Homo sapiens: one gene and its partners. Changing the gene in region 1 together with any one later gene gives a genetic interaction. Each region holds a gene or a part of one and is shown on either strand. Other genes may lie near its edges.

What was found. A genetic interaction does not mean that the proteins touch.
Region 2: changes in SDHC (region 1) and CARS2 together harm fitness less than expected from each alone (positive genetic interaction), as found in Homo sapiens cells (one large-scale study listed by BioGRID).
Region 3: changes in SDHC (region 1) and PGD together harm fitness more than expected from each alone (negative genetic interaction), as found in Homo sapiens cells (one large-scale study listed by BioGRID).

Annotation. Positions count from the first base shown.
Region 1 is NC_000001.11:161,355,153-161,360,146, forward strand, and holds part of SDHC (succinate dehydrogenase cytochrome b560 subunit, mitochondrial isoform 1 precursor), read left to right. Parts: intron 1-1,524; coding exon 1,525-1,688; intron 1,689-4,994. UniProt on the Homo sapiens protein: Membrane-anchoring subunit of succinate dehydrogenase (SDH) that is involved in complex II of the mitochondrial electron transport chain and is responsible for transferring electrons from succinate to ubiquinone (coenzyme Q).
Region 2 is NC_000013.11:110,644,017-110,647,863, reverse strand, and holds part of CARS2 (probable cysteine--tRNA ligase, mitochondrial), read left to right. Parts: intron 1-624; coding exon 625-763; intron 764-1,232; coding exon of another isoform or gene 1,233-1,503; exon of another isoform or gene 1,504-1,767; intron 1,768-1,773; coding exon 1,774-1,897; intron 1,898-3,257; coding exon of another isoform or gene 3,258-3,281; exon of another isoform or gene 3,282-3,380; coding exon 3,381-3,479; intron 3,480-3,681; exon of another isoform or gene 3,682-3,799; intron 3,800-3,847. UniProt on the Homo sapiens protein: Mitochondrial cysteine-specific aminoacyl-tRNA synthetase that catalyzes the ATP-dependent ligation of cysteine to tRNA(Cys). In addition to its role as an aminoacyl-tRNA synthetase, has also cysteine persulfide synthase activity.
Region 3 is NC_000001.11:10,404,817-10,409,063, reverse strand, and holds part of PGD (6-phosphogluconate dehydrogenase, decarboxylating), read right to left. Parts: intron 994-4,247; coding exon 924-993; intron 1-923. UniProt on the Homo sapiens protein: Catalyzes the oxidative decarboxylation of 6-phosphogluconate to ribulose 5-phosphate and CO(2), with concomitant reduction of NADP to NADPH.

The sequences.
Region 1 (4,994 bases):
AAATAATCTTCCAAGTATATACACATAGCAGTTACATTATATCATTATGGTTTTGATTTGCATTTGTCTAATGGCTAATGATGTTAAGCACCTGTTCATGCACTGATTGGCCATTTATTTATCGTCCTTGGAAAGATGTCTATTCAGATCCATTTGTCATTTTATTGATTGAGTTGTAAGAGTTTTTTATGTATTCTGGATAAAAGTCCTCCATGATTTGCAAATATTTTCTCCCATTCCTTTGAGTTGTCTTTTCACTTTCTTGATGGTATTATTTGCAGCACAAAAGTTAGTAATTTTGATGAAATCCAATTCATCTGTTTTTTCTTTTGTCATTTATGATTTTGGTGTCATCTGTGAAACCACTGCCTAATCCAAGATCATGAAGATTTATTTCTATGCTTTCTACTAAGAGTTTTATAGTTTTAGTTCTAGCATTTAGGTCTCTAATTCATTTTAATTTAAATTTTTGTGTAATAGAGATTTGAATGATTTAAAATTTTTCCTCTCTTCAGAGGTAGCAACACTAGAAGATAAAGATAAAAAAAGGGCCAGGCGCAGTGGCTCATGCTGGTAATCCCAGCGCTTTGGGAGGCTGAGGTGGGCGAATCACTTGAGGCCAGGAGTTTGAGACCAGCCTGGCCAACATGGCAAAACCCTGTCTCTACTAAAAATGCAAAAATTAGCGAGGCATGGTGGCATGCATCTATAAGGCCAGCTACCTGGGAGGCTGAGGCACAAGAATGGCTTGAACCCAGGAGGCGGAGGTTGCAGTGAGCTGAGATCACGCTTACTGCACTCTAGCCTGGGCAACAGAGCGAGACTCTGTCTCAAAAAAAAAAAAAAAAAAAAGAGAACCTAATTTTTTTTCTGACTCTTCTCTGGACTGAGTACACTGTTTTTACCTTTTCTTAGTTAGATGATGAACTAGATGATATAGCAAGGCTTGATGTCTAAACTGGCAAGTGAAGTTTTTATAGAGACGGATGTTGAAAGGAGGAATAACATACTAAAACATATGGCACATTTAGTTTATGATGAGATCCCAAGTAGTCTGTCTCCCATCATAAACTTGAACATGAGTTTAAATCTTCTCCTTTTCAAGGCCGGGTGCAGTGGCTCACACCTGTAATCTCAGCACTTTGGGAGGCAAAGGTGGGCAGATCACTTGAGGTCAGGAGTTCGAGACCAGCCTGGCCAACTTGGTGAAACCCTGTCTCTACTAAAAATACAAAAATTAGCTGGGCGTTGTGGTGGGCACCTGTCATCCCCACTACTCAGGAGGCTGAAGCAGGAGACTCGCTTGAACTTGGGAGGTGGAGGTTGCAGTGAGCCAAGATTGCACCACTATACTCCAGCCTGGGTGACAGAATGAGACTCTGTCTCAAGAAAAAAAGAAAACAAAAATCTTCTCCATTTCAAAATGGTTTAGAATTGTATGAGGTGCCAGGGGTCCCAGTTTTATGTATCATATTAGTTGTAACTTATGAGCAGCTGTGACAAGCTACTTGGTTTTCTCCTCAGGGGTCTCTCTTTTTGGCATGTCGGCCCTGTTACTCCCTGGGAACTTTGAGTCTTATTTGGAACTTGTGAAGTCCCTGTGTCTGGGGCCAGCACTGATCCACACAGCTAAGTTTGCACTTGTCTTCCCTCTCATGTATCATACCTGGAATGGGATCCGACACTTGGTAAGTTAATTCGGGATTTGCACATTTTCTCTGTGAAGGGAGTGGGGAGACTGGGAGGATTCTTTCCTTCATTACTGGGTTTAGTGCTGTTCTTTTTTTTTTTTCCCAAGAGTGGAGTCTCGCTCTATTGCCCAGGCTGGAGTGCAGTGGTGCGATCTCAGCTCACTGCAACTTCTGCCTCCTGGGTTCAAGAGATTCCTGTGCCTCAGCCTCTTAAGTAGTTGGCGTTATAGACGCATGCCACCACTCCTGGTTTTTGTATTTTTAGTAGAGATGGGGTTTCACCATGTTGGCCAGGCTGGTCTCAAACTCCTGGCCTTAAGTGATCCGCCTGCCTAAGCTTCCCAAAGTGCTAGGATTATAGGCGTGAGCCACCGCGCCCAGCTAGTGCTGTTCTTAAGGTTAGTTGTGACTCAGAGTCCTCTTGGGGAAAGCCAGACAAGTTCACAAGTTCCCCTGTGTGTTACCTGGCAGTCCTGCTGGTGGTGTAGCTGAGCAATGGTATAGGCCTCACAGATACTTGCAGGGTCTCATTGGGAACTCTTCCTTTTTTAATTTAATTTAATTTTATTTTTTGAGACAAAGTCTCGCTCTGTCTCCCAGGCTGGGGTGCAGTTGGCGCGATCTTGGGTCACTGCAAACTCCACCTCTTGGGTTCAAGAGATTCTCCTGCCCCAACCTCCCGAGCAGCTGGGACTACAGGCGCCTCCCACCACGCCCGGCTAATTTTTTGTATTTTTAGTAGAGATGGGGTTTCCCCATGTTAGCCAGGCTGGTCTCAAACTCCTGACCTTGTGATCCACCCCTCTCAGCTTCCCAAAGTGCTAGGATTACAGACGTGAGCCACTGTGCCCTGCTGAACTCTTCATTTTTAAGAGGGATATTTAAAAGAGATCCCTGAAGGCATAGAATGCATGTTTATGACATAAATATTAATTGGTACCTATTTATGTGTCAGGTACTGTTGTAGACACTGGGGATTCAGTTATGAGCTAGATAACCATTGTTGCTGCTTTCATTCTTCCGTTCCTGTTGACCCAGAGTAGTGCTTCTGACAGGACTCAAATAGATTACCTTTTCTTATCTACACATTATATTGCATTTCTGTTTTGAGATGTTGGACAGAATTGGGCCAACTTTAATAGAAACTGGGTGCCAAGAATTCCAGGTTTCAATATTGAGGTTAGGAATCTTTTTTTTTTTTTTTTTTTTTTGAGACAGAGTCTTGCTCCATTGCCCAGGCTGGAGTGCAATGGTGCAATCTCAGCTCACTGCAACCTCCACCTCCCAGGTTCAAGTGATTCTCCTGCCTTAGCCTCCCAAGTAGCTGAGATTACAGGTGCCCACAACCACGGCCAGCTAATTTTTTTTTTTTTTTGGTATTTTTAGTAGAGACGGGATTTTGCCATGTTGGCCAGCCTTACAGGTGCCTGCCACCACACCCAGCAAATTTTTTTTTTTTTGTATTTTTTAGTAGAGATGGGGTTTCACCATGTTGGCCAGCCTGGTCTTGAACTCTTGGCTTCCCAAAGTGCTGGGATTACAGGCGCGAGCCACTGCACATGGCAGGAATCATTTAATAGATTGGAAACTGTCCATGTTGCCTCCTATGTGACCTCATCGTCTGCTCAAAACTGGTTTCTAAAATTAGCCAGGTATGGTGGTGTGCGCCTGTGGTCCCAGCTACCCGTAAGGCTGAGGTGGGAGGATCGAATGAGCCTGGGAGGCGGAGGTTGCACTGAGCCGAGATTGTGCCACTGCACTTCAGCCTGGGTGACAGAGTGACCCCATCTAAAAAAAAAATAGGCGGGCACAGTGGTTCACGCCTGTAATCTCAGCATTTTGGGAGGCCGAGGCGGGCGGATAATCTGAGGCCGGGAGTTCGAGACCAGCCTTACCAACATGGAGAAACGCTGTCTCTACTAAAAATACAAAATTAGCCGGGCATGGTGGCACATGCCTGTAATCCCAGCTACTCGGGAGGCTGAGGCAGGAGACTTGCTTGAACCCGGGAGGCAGAGGTTTCAGTGAGCTGAGATCATGCCATTGTACTCCATCCAGCCTGGGCAACAAGAGCGAAATTCCGTCTCAAAAAAAAAAAAAAAAATACAAAAATTAGCTGGGGGTGGTGGCATGTGCCTGTAATCCCAGCTACTTGGGAGGCTGAGGCAGGAGAATCCAGGAGGCAGAGGTTGCAGTGAGCCAAGATCATGCCACTGCACTCTAGCCTGGGTGACAAAAGTGAAACTCAGTCTCAAAAAAAAAAAAAAGAAAAGATTTTATATTTTGTAGTCTCCCTAGTTTTGCTTCCAAGAAGGCAATTAAAATTCAGTTCTTTCTGTATTTTCATTACTTCTGAATCTGAGTCAACTGTCAGATGGATGCTTTTGCCTTAATTTGACTTTTTATTACTTCCAAATCATAGCCTTAGAGACAAGCACTTTCTGGATTTCAGTCTGGTCCAATAGACAGTTTAATGGAATAAAAAAAATGAGAGACTAAATTACTTATTAAATTAAGTGTCTGTATCAACTGTTCCCTGGGGCAGTGTTCAGTTTGATTTAAAATGACTTTTTACTTCCCTGAGGGGGAGGCAGTAGAGAGGGAGGACATTTCCATTAATGACTTCCTATTCCACAGAACAAAGCTCTGTAAAGAAAATCAGCTGATCAGCTTCCTCTGTTCATATTTTGGCTCAGACAGAGACTTGCCCTATATTTGTCTTTGTCTCAATATGGGGGTAAGAGAGGGGAGGTTTTATAAAATTGCAGAACTTAGAGCTTTTCTGCCCTGGTTCTTGCCTGTGATGGTAATCTTTTTGTTGAGGGAAGTGAAGAACCTAAGGGTCCTTAAGTCTGCTTTTATTTTTTCTTCTAGCAAGTACTGGCTGTGAGTGTGGGACAGGATTTTGTGTTTTCTGTGACAGTCTGCAGTTTTTGGCCTCTGAACTTGATAGTTGACTTGCCAGAAGATCTAATGGGGGAGTGAGGAGTGAAAGAGTAGGATGTTATAGGGTCTGTGGCATTCTAGGGAATATCCCTGCCTACTACTGCTACCCAGTAGGACTCACTCTCTATAAAACATTGTCCTTATTTAAGCAAAACAACTCTTTGTGGAATCTGCTTGACTCCTAATCTCCTAGTTAGAAGCAATTTGAGGGTTGAGGTGGAGGCATCTTCTCATCTTGATTTTTTTTTTTTTTTCTGGGCTTCCATCTTTTCTCTGAACTGACTCCTAATTTAGGCAGTTTTACATTCAGACTGTGGGTGTATGTGTGTATGTGTGTGTTAAGGCGCCATGTATGTG
Region 2 (3,847 bases), on another chromosome or scaffold:
GTGATCATTGCAAAGCGATTCACTCCTGTTGTCTTACCCATCAGAATGCAGTAGACTAGAAACCACAAGAAATGAACAGATGTAAACAGAAACACTGGCCCCTCATCCAGGTGGCCTAAGAAACACCCACAGACTCTAAAGCCAGGTCTGGGGACTGCTCCTCCCTCCCTCTTTGGGCTGTCCCATCACACACAGGCACTTTCCCTCGGGAGGGCCTTCCCTAGAGGTGCCTCTGACCCCAGGGCGGGGCTCCCTCTTTCCAGAGCTAGCCATTCATCCGCACCTCCATCCATCCAGGGCGGGGCTCCTTCTTTCCAGAGCCAGCCATTCATCCGCACCTCCATCCAGTCAGTGGAAATGCACCTCTTGGCTGGAAGCACTGGGAGCATGTCTCCACCGCCACCTTGTTCTCCCACGGCAGGTGCCACTGAGCTGGGACAGACCCTGTGGTCTGTGTCCAGTGGGCCTAGGGACTCGCGGTCACTGGAGGGCGTGAGAGCCACATGTCCCGCTCTCCGTGTGGTCCCTGGGTGGCAGTGCCCTCAGAAAACACTGATTCTGCTGGACCAGGGCAGGGGCACAGCATGGTGGGCACCGCCTCAGTGACCATCTCTTCCTCCTCAGCCATCGACTACAGTGACAGCGCCATGCTCCAAGCTCAGCAGCTGCTCCTGGGGCTGGGCTCTTTCCTGGAGGACGCACGTGCCTACATGAAGGGGCAGCTGGCCTGCGGCTCCGTCAGGGAAGCGATGCTGTGGGAGAGGTAAGAGGCCCGCCTAGCACCCGGCGTGGCACCCCTCCTGTGGCCTGCTGGGTGCTGCTGGTGGGCTCTTGAAGGGGAAGAGGGGCCCCCAGGAGACAGGGCGCTGGACAGGAGGTTTGGGGTCAGGGACTGCCCAGAGAGGCCCCAGGAGACAGGGTGCTGGGCAGGAGGTGCAGGTGTGGGGTCAGGGGCTCCCCAGAGGCCACAGGGGACTGGGAGCTGGACAGGAGGTGTGGGGTCAGGGGCTCCCCAGAGGCCACAGGACACTGGGTGCTGGACAGGAGGTGTGGGGTCAGGGGCTCCCGAGACATCCCAGGGAGACGGCGCTGGCAGGAAGTGTGCCTGGGGCCCTCGGGCTCTGAGCCCCCTGCTCAGAGTGGCTTTGGGCTCGGGTTCCCTGTGCGAGGAGCGGAGCTGCTCATCCCTCCCAGTCCTGACTGTGAGGAGCCAAAATCTATAAAACACACAGGCCTGGGCCCACAGCATCGCCTCCACTCCCCACCCACGGGTGTCCTGGGCAGCGCTGCACATTCATCCCGGCATGCAGAGTCTTCCGGATGGTCTTGGTGATAACCCACCCCTGCCACTTCAGCAGGGTAGGCAGCCAGTGGCCACGGGAGGCTGAGATCCGGGAGCCCCGGGCTGGGCCTCCCCAGCCTCTCTTTGTGAGTGGTCAGCCGTGCCGTCTCTCCCCCACCGAGTCTTCCTTGCCACTCCCCTCAATATCTATTGATTTTTAAAACCATCATGAAAATGCCCACGTGTGTCTTGTATTTTAAGTGTCACAGGTGACCTCTGCTCTGGGACTTTTTCTTGGGGTAACATGACAGTTTGCAGTTGATGTTACATAATTTTCTGCTACTCAGGAACTCAAGTCTTTGGGAATATGACCTAGAGAAAGTCCCCAGATTAGAGCCCCCAGCGTCTCTCCCTGGGGAAGGACTGGTGTGGGGGCCGCCTGGGGAGAGTGGAGCTCCCTCTGCTGTGACTGTTCTCTCCTCTTCCCTCAGGCTCTCCAGCACCAAGAGGGCCGTGAAGGCGGCCTTGGCAGATGATTTTGACACACCCAGGGTGGTTGATGCCATCCTGGGCCTTGCACACCACGGGAATGGACAGCTCAGGGCGTCCCTGAAGGTAGCTCAACGAACAGGTGGCCTTGCGGTCCTGCTGCCAGGGGCATGGGTCGGGTCCTCTGGTGGGTTTTTCTCATGTCGGCTGGGTGGCATCTCTGCTGATTTCGCCTCCCGCAGCTTCTGTGGAGGAACTCATGGAGCCCGAGTCTGCCGCTGACACACGGGATGGCACCCAGCCTGGGGCTTGACCCTCCCGGGCCTCAGGGCCACCTGGGGAACAAGCTCTCAGGAGCCCCTGAGGCTGAGAAATTCTGTGTGCTTGATCCTCAGGGGACACATCTCATGTCCCCACTGCATTCATGGCCCTTTCACAGAGAGAGCTTTTGTGGGGAACTTTTTAAGGAAAGACCCATTTACCCCAAGGCACTGTTATGCAATCTGCACCCCAGTGTGATGACCACACCAAGCACCCAGGGGTCTGAGCCTGGACTCGTGGGTCACTGCAAGTGTTTGGCAGGTGGGACAAAGACCGTGAAGGCGGCGGCAGGCTTTGGTTCCTGCACGTCTGAGGGTCCCCTGCCAGGCCCTGGGAGGCGCTGCGTCAGGAGCCCCGTGACCTTTGATGACCCGGGAAGCCGAGGCTGTTTGTGCCTCTCCCACCTCTGGAAACACCTGGGGGTTCTGGCCACATGCTCTGTTAGTTGAGCATCTCTGTGGAGGTCTCCATCCCTGGCTGCGTGCAGTGTTGGGTTTCAGAGCACCAGCAGGTGGGGCAGGGTGCCATGTGCCCTTGCCGGGTGCCTTCGGTCCAAATACTGCAGACGCGCAGGGCTCGCCTCTGAGGGGGGCGGGCATTTGAGTCACAGCCGGCTGCAGGAACAGGCTGCCCCGCACTGAAGGCAGCCAGGCCGGGCTGGGGCAGGTCCCGCAGCCAGGCTGCTCCTGCACGGGAGCTCCTCCTCCTCAGCCCGTCCGCGGCCTCCTGCCTTCACCGCAGCTGCTGCCGGCACTACCAGGCTGGCCCAGCTCTAGGGCAACAGGGGCCTCTTGTGGCAAGGGGCGGGACAAGTAAAGAGGCTGGCTTTTGTCCTGCGCTTTTCCTTCCCAAGCTTTGCAATTCTGGGGCACCTGCAAACTAAGGCTAGTGTCACCCAAGGGTCTCTGTGCTTGGTAACTGATGTGAGCCACGTACCAGGATTTCCCCGTTTTCTGAGAAACCCAGCCCAGTGCCCACTCAGCCTCCACCTACCATGCGCCACCTGCCATACTCCACGGTCATGCTTCACCCGCGAAGCCTGATGAGCTAGTCACCACCCACATGACTGATGGGTAAACTGAGGCACAAGAGATTCCTCATGCACCTATAGTTGTATGGTCTGCAGTGAGGTAGCCGATGCCAGAGCTGTGTCCTCCCTCCATAGAAGCCAGGAGAAAGGCCAGACTGAAGTGACCTGCTGAAGCCTTTGTCTTTTGACATTGAATTCCGTTTGCCCACTGCCATCAAGACTGCTTTTAAGGAGCTTCTGCGACATGATCTCTTACAGGAACCTGAAGGGCCGAGAAGTCCTGCTGTGTTTGGTGCCATCATCTCTTACTTTGAACAGTTTTTTGAAACTGTTGGAATTTCTCTGGCAAATCAACAGGTAGGTCCTATTATTTTAAATGCTTAATTCTGGAATTTTCTCCATGTTGGGACAATAACCTTTACCCTTTTAACTTGGAATAGAGCATTATGATGCCACACTAATGTATTTACCTGTTTAAAAACATGTTACTTTCCTGGAAAAATAAACACACTCAGAGCCAATACTTATTAATTGGAATTGCACAATTCTACTTCTGCAGTTGGCAAACTCTCGTGCGCAGAACCAGAGATGAGTCCATCTCAGCAACAGAATGTCGCCAGCTCTGCACACACGTTTATGTTCAAAGACTCTCAGAATGTGCAGAAGTCACAGGCACAGTAAGAGAACATTTTTTCCTGACCCATTTGAGGGCAAGTTGGCGACCT
Region 3 (4,247 bases), about 150 Mb from region 1:
AAGTCCATGAAGGGACGTGGCTTGCCTGATGTCACAGTTAAGTTTATGGAAAGCCAGAACTGCCACTCAGGTCTCCTGAGCCTAATGCTTTTTTCCATCCACAGCATGGCTGAACTACAATATGAGATAAAGTTTACTTTAACAGCAACACGAGGCCGGGCATGGTGGCGCATGCCTGTAACCTCAGCACTTTGTGAGGCCAAGGCAGGCAGATGACTTGAGAGTCCAGGAGTTTGAGACCAGCCTGGGTGACATGGTGAAACCCCGTCTCTACAAAAAATACAAATATTAGCTAGGCGTGGTGGCATGCACCTGCAGTCCCAGCTACTCAGGAGGCTGAGGCAGGAGGATTGCTTGAGCCTGGGAGGTGGAGGTTGCGGTGAGCCAAGATCGCACCACTGTACTATGAACTAGGTTAGGCCTCCTTCATATTCAGTGAGGGTGCAAGTCCACAGGTTACTTTGTTCAAGCACAGAATGCCTGAATCCCACACTACAGGATGGGGAATTTTCCACGTTCATGGAATGTTGACACAGCAACAGTACCTTCAATCTTCCACCTTTCACCCATGCAAGCAAACGCCACTTTTGATTCTGACATTCTTTCCTTTGGCCATGAAATAATATGGCTCGAAAAAATCTTATTTCACTTCATCCTATTCCTTTTTAAAGAATTCATCTTTTAGATGAATTATAGAAGGCTGCTTTTAATATCAACCTCAAGGCTATGAACAGTCAGCTAAGATACAAAGATGTGAACAGCAGGCATGCATTCTAGGCGTTGGCTATTCTAGCAATCAAAGATCGAGACGTTTATGTCACCAAGCTAACCCCTGGGAGACCACGGTGGCCTTTCTCCACGCACTTCATCACTTAGACACGCCCATGTTGCCAATTGGCTTTAAAGAGTAGCCCAGAACTTGCCCAGTCACAGCAGGGTTCTCCAGTTCCCACTTTTGCAGCAATGCCTTGGAAGATGGTCTTGATGTGGGGCCTGTGTAAAGAAACAGTGTGGTTCAGTTAATGAGAAGAGACGGGCTGAGAGCCCATACCCATAGACACCAACATACCCATAGACACCAACCCCTATCTTTTCCTTTCTTTTTTTTTTTTTTTGAGACAGGGTCTCACGTTGTCACCCAGGCTGGAATGCAGTGGTGTGATCTCAGCTCACTGCAGCCTCCTCAACCTCCCAGGTTCAAGTAATCTTCCTGCCTCGGCCCCCTAAGTGGCTAAGACTACAGGTATGTGACACCACACCCAGCTCATTTTTTTGGATTTTGTAGAGATGGGGTTTTGCCATGTTGCCCAGATTGGTCTCGAACTCCTGAGCTCAAGTGATCCACCCACCGTGGATACCCAATGTGCTGGGATTACAGGCATAAGCCACCACCGCACTGGGCCCATCTTTTTCTTTCTAATGGGAGGTGGAAGTGCCCACAAAAAGATAATGAATGTGCTAAGTTCTCAAGGTCAACTGCAGACCCTTGACTGAAACTGGCCCCTCCTCCAGGTCCTGGTGGGCCCTCAAAGCAGACTGGACTATCGGACTGAGACTACAGACAGAAAGGCTGAGCAGAAGCATCACCAAAGCACCAGAAGAAATGTCTTCTTAGAGACAGGGTCTCACTCTGTTGCCCAGGCTGGAGTGCAGTGGCACAATCACGGCTCCCTGCAGCCTCAAACTCCTGGACTTAGGTGATCCTCCTGCCTCAGCCTCCCAAGTAGGTGGGGCTACAGGTGTGTGCCATCACACCCAGCTAATTAAAAACTTTTTTTTGTAGGGACAGGATCTTGCTATGTTGCCCAGGCTGGTGTTGAGCTCCTGGCCTCAAGCAATCCTCACACCTCAGCTTCCCAAAGTGCTGGGACCATAGGCGTGAGCCACCATGCCTGGCTAATTTTTTGTTGGTGGTGCAGAGATGGGGTCTCCCTATGTTGATGTGGCTGGTCTTGAACTCCTCGGATCAAGCACTCCTCCCACCTCAGCCTCTTGAGTCACTGAAATTACAGGCATAAGCCATCGCACCCGGCTCAGAAATTTCTACTGCAGCAGCAGCAGACAGTATGATTGCAAACAGCAGGCAATACGAAAGTTCCTTTAGAGATCCTCTTTTAATTTTTTCCCTTTTCTTTATTTCTCCTTATAATGGCTTTTAGCAAGTGAAGAGACCCTCTTTCATTTGTCTGGATGTGTGCTGCCAGGCACAGAATGGTTCTGGACATTTGGATTAAGAACCAGGCAGCGTTTTTGAGAGCTACATTACCATTCAGAGAAAGGCCGCTGTTCATTCCTTCCACAGCTCAGCACGCGGATATATTACTCTTGAGACTTTCCCTCACTGTTCTGCTCCCTAATGGCCAGTCAAGGCTTCCTCACAAAAAGTTTCTGGTACAGACATGAAATCTTACAGGGTTGCAAAGTTAACATTTAGGATTAGGGATGAAGACAGCCACACCGGAAACCGCAGAGCTTCACTGAACTTTTACAGTGTCCTTCTGGTAAAGGTGCCATTTGTACTTCTGCCACCACAGTATGAGGAAAGAGAACTGATGGAAACAACTGGAGCACTCCATATGTCAAATACTTTTACGTGCATTGTCTGCTGGTTGCCTTTCTAACTGCTCACTGTGCAGGTGCTTCGAGATAAGTATTTTCAAACCTTTTTTTTTTTTCTTAAGAAACAGGGTCTTGCTATGTTGTCCAGGCTGGCCTTGAACACCTGGGCTCAAGCAGTTCTCTCACCTCAGTCTCCTGAATAGCTGGCACTACAGGTGCAAGCCACTGCACACACAGCTGTTTAAACTTCTGAGAAGCAGAAAGGCCTCTCTACTTCTGTGTTTTATTAATAACACACTGAAGAGAATCCCCAGACTCATTCACCAGAAAGGTAATTAAAAAAATTATTTTTGGCTGGGCGCAGTGGCTCACACCTGTAATCCCAGCACTTTGGGAGGCTGAGGCAGGCAGATCACGAGATCAGGGGATCAAGACCATCCTGGCTAACACGGTGAAACCCCGTCTCTACTAAAAATACAAAAAATTAGCTGGGCGTGGTCGTGGGTGCCTGTAGTTCCAGCCACTTGGGAGGCTGAGGCGAGAGAATGGCGTGAACCTGGCAGGTGGGGCTTGCAGTGAGCAGAGATCGCGCCACTGCACTCTGCACTCCAACCTGGGCAACAGAGCAAGACTCCGTCTCAAAAAAAGAATCATTTTTTCTTTTTTACTGAGACCGAGTCTCGCTCTGTCACCCATGATGGAGTGCAGTGGTGAGATCTCGGCTCATTGCAACCTCTGCCTCCCAGGTTCAAGTGATTCTTGTGCCTCAGCCTCCCATGTAGCTGGGATTAGAGGTGCCCTCCACCATGCCCGGCTAATTTTTGTATTATTAGTAGAGAGTTTCACCATGTTGGCCAGGCTGGTCTTGAACTCCTGACCTCAAGTGATCCTCCCATCTCAGTCTCCCAAAGTGCTGGGATTACAGGCGTGAGCCACCATGCCCAGCCTTAAAGAATCATATTTCAGACCAGGCACGGTGGCTCACGCCTGTAATCCCAGTACTTTGGGAGGCCAGGGCAAGCGGATTGCCCACAATTATTTATATATATATCGGATTGCCCACAATTATTTATATATATGTGTGTGTGTGTGTGTGTGTGTGTATTTTTTGTTTGTTTTGTTTTGTTTTGTTTTTGAAACAAACTCTCACTCTGTCGCCAGGGTGAAGTGCAGTGGCGCGATCTCGGCTCACTAACCTCTGCCTCCTAGGTTCAAGCAATTCTCCTGTCTCAGCCTCCCAAGTAGCTGGGACTACAGGCGCACGCCACCATGCCCGGCTAATTTTTGTATTTTTAGTAGAGACAGGAATTTACCATGTTGGCCAGGATCGTCTAGATCTCCTGACCTGGTGATCTGCCTGCCTCAGCCTCCCGAAGTGCTGGGATTACAGGCGTGAGCCACCACGCCCGGCCAATTTATATTTTTTAATTAAAAAAATGTTTGTTTTACTTTTTTGTAGAAACAGGATCTCGCTATGTTGTCCAGGCTAGTCTTCAACTCCTGGGCTCAAATGATCATTCACCGCAGCTTCCCAAAGTGCTGGGCAGTGATTACAGGCATGGGCCACTATGCCCAGCCTGTTACCCACGATTATCACATTAAGTTACTTTTGGGTTATATATCAGCTAAAAGAGGCAGACCTTATTCCTACATCCAGACATTGCACAGAACATTACCTAAACTGCTTC